Linked DNA regions of Homo sapiens. The protein of the gene in region 1 interacts with the protein of each later gene in a pairwise test. Each region holds a gene or a part of one and is shown in the gene's direction. Other genes may lie near its edges.

Region 1 (2,708 bases):
CTTGGCCTCCCAAAGTGCCGGGATTAGAGGCATGAGCCACCACGCCCAGCCTTCATCACATCTTGAGAGAGGACACTGTCTGCCTCTTGCTCTGATGAGGGTCTGATGCAAGGATAGTGAGTCTCTACAGTGCACACTTAAGAAAGGCAGCATGTGGGTGCTCACAGGTCAGCGGAGGAGGGGGAGCTGGTGGGGACCAGGCATGCCTTGCTCCAGATCAGGATATGATGGCATTGGTGCAGATTATATTAGTATAGAATATGGTCTCAGGAACCAGGCAGGACTTTGGCTTCCGAGCAGGGTTCAGATCCCAGCTTGGCCCTACCTGTGCAGTGAGATCTCAAGCAAGTCAGCCTCTAAGCCTCAGGTTCCTCCTTTGCCAGTTCAACAGATGAGCTGGCCTGGGGTGGGCTGTGTGGTGATGGTGCTGGGGCTGGGTCCTCTGCCCCTGCAGGTGGTCTATGTTGCCCGAAACCCAAAGGACGTGGCGGTCTCCTACTACCATTTCCACCGTATGGAAAAGGCGCACCCTGAGCCTGGGACCTGGGACAGCTTCCTGGAAAAGTTCATGGCTGGAGAAGGTGGGCTTGACTGGAGGAAGGAGGGTGTGAAGCCGAGGGGTGGTGGCTATAACGTACAGCAACCCTGTGTCGGTGCCCCCTGCCCGCTTCTCTAGTGTCCTACGGGTCCTGGTACCAGCACGTGCAGGAGTGGTGGGAGCTGAGCCGCACCCACCCTGTTCTCTACCTCTTCTATGAAGACATGAAGGAGGTGAGACCGACTGTGATGCTTCCCCCCATGTGACACCTGGGGGCAGGCACCTCACAGGGACCCACCAAGGCCACCCAGCCCCGTCCCTGGGCGGCTCCCACAGCAAGCCCGGATTCCCCATCCTACCTCCCTGGCCCAGGCCCCCCCACTGCAGCCCCACCTGGCAGCAGGCTCGGCACAGCTTTCATCTTCTGCACCTGAGTCAGCTGCATGGGTGGCCACGGATCAGATACTTAGTCCTATTGCTTATCCTCACCAAAGGGTGTGCCACCCAGGGCCACAGTCATGGAAGAAGACCATCCCGGTCCTCACCCATAGGCGCCAAGCCCTGTTCATGATGGGATCACAGGGCAGAGATCAATTCATTTTACTCCAGAGACTAGGGCCCCAGGGGTTGAGGCTCTTTGGGGTTTCTAGGGGAAGTGGCCAGATCCCCTCTGAGGTTAGAGAGGGGGACCCGTTTTGTTTTGCTCCACTGAGGAGCCCTCTGCTGCTCAGAACCCCAAAAGGGAGATTCAAAAGATCCTGGAGTTTGTGGGGCGCTCCCTGCCAGAGGAGACCATGGACTTCATGGTTCAGCACACGTCGTTCAAGGAGATGAAGAAGAACCCTATGACCAACTACACCACCGTCCCCCAGGAGCTCATGGACCACAGCATCTCCCCCTTCATGAGGAAAGGTGGGTGCTGGCCAGCACGGGGGTTTGGGGCGGGTGGGAGCAGCAGCTGCAGCCTCCCCATAGGCACTTGGGGCCTCCCCTGGGATGAGACTCCAGCTTTGCTCCCTGCCTTCCTCCCCCAGGCATGGCTGGGGACTGGAAGACCACCTTCACCGTGGCGCAGAATGAGCGCTTCGATGCGGACTATGCGGAGAAGATGGCAGGCTGCAGCCTCAGCTTCCGCTCTGAGCTGTGAGAGGGGCTCCTGGAGTCACTGCAGAGGGAGTGTGCGAATCTACCCTGACCAATGGGCTCAAGAATAAAGTATGATTTTTGAGTCAGGCACAGTGGCTCATGTCTGCAATCCCAGCGATTTGGGAGGTTGAGCTGGTAGGATCACAATAGGCCACGAATTTGAGACCAGCCTGGTAAAATAGTGAGACCTCATCTCTACAAAGATGTAAAAAAATTAGCCACATGTGCTGGCACTTACCTGTAGTCCCAGCTACTTGGGAAGCAGAGGCTGGAGGATCATTTCAGCCCAGGAGGTTGTGGATACAGTGAGTTATGACATGCCCATTCACTACAGCCTGGATGACAAGCAAGACCCTCCCTCCAAAGAAAATAAAGCTCAAAATAAAATATGATTTGTGTTCATGTAGAGCCTGTATTGGAAAGGAAGAGAAACTCTGAGCTGAAAGAGTGAATGCCCGGTGGGGCCACATATGGTCACCTCTCCCCCAGCCTTCAGCTCCCCAGGTCACCATATCTGGGGAGGGGAGAAGGGTTTGGAGAAGTAAAACCCAGGAGATGTGTGGAGGGGGGATGTCTGTTTAATCCCAGCACATCCTCTGCTGTCCTGCCCCAAGATGGTGGAGGACGTCGAGTCCGCCGGGCAGCGTCACTTTTTCTTGGGCTCCTTAGAAGCTACCAGGTACCTCTGGGCCACACTGAGATGAGGGGAGTAGCCGTCTGCATAGGAGGTGTCTTCAAACAGGATAGAATAGTCCTCCTGGGGCTGTGGGGCAGGTGGACAGGAAGGGCAGAGAGCAGCCCCGGGGCTGGTGTCACTCACTTGTTGGTGGCATGGCTGTAACTGACCACCTCGGCCAGGATCCACTGCTCATCCCCATCCACGGCCTTCACCCGGGCAGCCACCTTGTCTCCAGGTCTGGCCACGTAGTCTCCTGAGGCAGGGATGGCCCCACAGAGGGGTGGGGGCCTGTGAGTGGAACAAAGGATCAGTCCCAGCCCCTGGGCACCAGCCCCTTCCTCGCAG
Region 2 (3,754 bases), on another chromosome or scaffold:
TTTTTTTTGAGACAGGGTCTTGTTCTCTTGGCCAGGCTGGAGTGCTGTGGGAAAATCTGGGCTCACTGCAGCCTCAACCTCCGGGACTCAAGTGATCATCCTGCCTCAGCCACCCAGAGTAGCTGAGAATACAGGCGTGCGCCACCAGGCTCGGGTAATTTTTTGTATTTTTTTTTAGAGACAGGGTTTTGCCATGTTGCCTAGGCTGGTCTTGAACGCCTGGGCTCAAGTGATCTTCTCGTCTCAGCCTCTCAGAGTTCTGGGATTACAAGTGTAAGCAACCATGCCTGGCCTTGTGTATTTCTTTTTGGTTTTTTTTGTGATGGAGTCTTGCTCTGTCACCCAGGCTGGAGTGCAATGGTATGATCTCGGCTCACTGCAACCTCCACCTCCTGGGTTCAAGCGATTTTCCTACCTCAGCCTCCCGCATAGCTGGTATTACAGGGGCCCACCACTATGCCCATCTAATTTTTGTATTTTTTAGTAGAGACGGGGTTTCGCTGTGTTGGCCAGGCTGGTCTCGAACTCCTGACCTCAGGTGATCCGCCCGCCTTGGCCTCCCAAAGTGCTGGGGTTACAGGTGTGAGCCACTGTGCCTGGCCAAATAATTTTTTTTTTTTTTTAAGATAGAGTCTTGCTTTGTTGCCAGGCTGCGGTGCAGTGGTGTGATCTCTGCTCACTACAGTCTCCGCCTCCTGGGTTCAAGCCATTCTTCTGCCTCAGCCTCCTGAGTAGCTGGAATTACAGGCGGGCGCCACCACACCCAGCTAATTTTAGTATTTTTAGTGGAGATGGGGTTTCACCATGTTGGCCAGGACAGTCTTGATTTCCTGACCTTGTGGTCTGCCCGCCTTGGCCTCCCAAAGTGCTGGGATTACAGGCGTGAACCACTGCACCTGGCCTTTTTTTTTTTATTGAGACACAGTCTCACTCTGTCACCCAGACTGGAGTGCAGTGGCACAATCTCGGCTCACTGCAGCCTCCACCTCTGAGGCTCAAGTAAGTCTCATGCCTCAGGTGTGTGCCACCACACCCAATTAATTTTTTATATTTTTGCTATAGACAGGGTTTCACCATGTTAGCCAGGCTGGTCTCAAACTCCTGGCCTCAAGTTGATCTGCCCACCTCAGCCTTCCAAAGTGCTGGGATTACAGATGTGAGCCACCTTGCCCAGCCTAATTTCTAAATTTTTGTAGAGACGTGGTTTCACTGTGTTGCCTAGGCTGTGGTTGAACTCCTAGGCTCAAAGGATCCTCCTGCCTTGACTCCCCTAAGTGCTGGGATTACAGGCATAAGCCACCATACCAGGCCCTTTTTTTTTTTTCCCCTGGAGACAGAGTCTTGCTTTGTCACCCAGGCTAGAGTGCAGTGGTGTGATCTCGGCTCACTACAACTTCCGCCTCCCGGGTTCAAGCGATTCTCCTGCCTCAGCCTCCCAAGTAGCTGGGGTTACAGGTGCCTGCCACCACACCTGGGTAATTTTTGTATTTTTAGTCATGTTGGCCAGGCTGGTCTCGAACTTATGACCTCATGATCCGCACGCCTTGGCCTCCCAAAGTGCTGGGATTACAGGCATGAGCCACTGGGCCCAGCCCAACCTGTAATTCTTTAGGAAGATTTATATTCAAACAAGTCCTTTTTTTATTTAAAAGAAAAAAACACACACACACAGGGTCTTACTCTGTCACCCAGGCTGGAATGCACTGCCACAATCACGGCTCATTGCAACCTCTAGCTTCCAGGCTCAGGTGATCCTCCCACCTCAGCCTCCTGAATAGCTGGGACTACAGATGCATGCCACCACGACCAGCTAATAATTTGTATTTTTTGTAGAAATGGGGCTTTGCCATGTTGCCCAGGCCAGTCTTGAACTCCTGGGCTCAAGTGATCCTCCTGCCTCAGCCTCCCAAAGTGCTGGAATTACAGGCATGAACCACCACACCCAGCCCAAGTACATATTTTAACTAACAGCTTCACAGGAACTCTGTGGATTACTTAGAGCATGTGCTTTGGGGTTTCGAGTCCTGCCTCTGTGGCTAACTTTCTGTGCAGCCCTGGGCTAAGATATTTTACTTTTCTTTGAGACAGAGTCTCGCTCTGTTGCCAGCCTGGAGTGCAGTGGTGATCTTGGCTCACTGCAACCTCTGACTCCCAGGTTCAAGTGATTCTCCTGCCTCAGCCTCCCGAGTAGCTGGGATTACAGGCGTGAGCCACTACGCCCGGCTAATTTTTGTATTTTTAGTAGAGATGGGGTTTCACCGTGTAGGCCAGGATGGTCTCGATCTCCTGACCTCCTGATCCGCCCACCTCGGCCTCCCAAAGTACTGGGATTACAGGCATGAGCCACTGCGCCCAGCCACAATATTTCACTTTTCTAACGTCGTTTTTCTTTCTTTAGTTCTTTTTTTTTTTTTTTTAAGAGTCCTAGCCCAGGCTGGGCGCGGTGGCTCACACCTGTAATCCCAGCACTTTGGGAGGCCGAGACCATCCTGGCTAACCGGTGAAACCCCATCTCTACTGAAAAAATAAAAAAAAAATTAGCCAGGCATGGTGGTGGGTGCCTGTGTTCCTGGCTACTTGGGAGGCTGAGGCAGGAGAATGGCATGAACCCGGGAGGTGGAGCTTGCAGTGAGCCGAGATCGCGCCACTGTACTCCAGCCTGGGCGACAGAGTGAGACTCTGTCTCAAAAAAAAAAAAAAAAAGAGTCCTAGCTCAGTAGGTAGGACTATAGGCCCATCCCACCATGCCCAGCTAACTTTTTTTTTTGTAGCAATGCCCAGGCTGGTCTTGAACTCCTGGCCTCCCAAAGTGCTGGGGTTACAGGTGTGAGTTGCCATGCCTGGCCCTGAGCCTCAATTTCATTACTTGAAGTATGAAATAAATTAACACATTAAAGTGTTGCTAGGATTAAAATGAGGTCCTTATGTATTCAAAAATCGTACAGAGATTTTTGAGGCCCTTCTTATAGCAAAACTCCCATTTACATTTTTCTGGAGCCTGGAGAAATGTGTCCAGACTGAGTGAATAGGTGCTATTTGCTGTACTTACATTATCATTTATAAAATACTACTGGTGGTCATCCTGGAAAGATGATCCCAACTGCCTATATCCTGTTCATCATTAACTTGTGTGTCCCAAAAAATCTTTTGAAAAGTTGCTAAATAGTGAATATTTACTATTTTATGAGGGCCTGCCAGTTCCCTGCCAGTGGAATTGTTTCAAGTCAATGATTCATCTGTTCAGTCATTTGGAAAATACTCTTTTTTTTTTTTTTTTTTTTTTTTTTTGAGGTGGAGTCTTGCTCTATGGCCAGGCTGGAGTGCAGTGGTGTGATCTCGGCTCACTGCAAGCTCTGCCTCCCAGATTCAAGAGATTCTCCTGCCTCAGCCTCCCAAGTAGCTGGGACTACAGGCATGTGCCACAACGTCCAGCTCATTTTTTGTATTTTTAGTAGAGATGGGGTTTCACCAGGTTGGCCAGGATGGTCTCCAACTCCAGATCTTGTGATCTGCCCACCTCGGCCTCCCAAAGTGCTGGGATTGCAGGCGTGAGCCACCGTGCCCGGCCGGAAAATATTCTTCATGTATAGCAGTGTTGGGTACCGCAGGAGATTTTTTAAAAAGTAGCACTCAGTCCTTACCTTCAAGGAACTTAGTTTAGTTGTGGGAGATAAGCTATATCCATGAGAAGTTTGGCTGAGAGGAGGCGGAGTTGGGCTCCCTGCAGGTGGGGAGGAGGGTCAGTTCTCATTTC

The links.
Region 2: the proteins of SULT1A4 (region 1) and SHMT1 interact in binary tests that used the Homo sapiens proteins (3 or more experiments, as listed by UniProt).

The regions. Positions count from the first base shown.
Region 1 is NC_000016.10:29,462,891-29,465,598, forward strand, and holds the end of SULT1A4 (sulfotransferase 1A4), read left to right. Parts: intron 1-454; coding exon 455-581; intron 582-676; coding exon 677-771; intron 772-1,269; coding exon 1,270-1,450; intron 1,451-1,572; coding exon 1,573-1,685; 3' UTR 1,686-2,076; downstream 2,077-2,708. UniProt on the Homo sapiens protein: Sulfotransferase that utilizes 3'-phospho-5'-adenylyl sulfate (PAPS) as sulfonate donor to catalyze the sulfate conjugation of phenolic monoamines (neurotransmitters such as dopamine, (R)-adrenaline/epinephrine, (R)-noradrenaline/norepinephrine and serotonin) and phenolic and catechol drugs.
Region 2 is NC_000017.11:18,356,814-18,360,567, reverse strand, and holds part of SHMT1 (serine hydroxymethyltransferase, cytosolic), read left to right. Parts: intron 1-15; exon of another isoform or gene 16-154; intron 155-3,754. UniProt on the Homo sapiens protein: Interconversion of serine and glycine.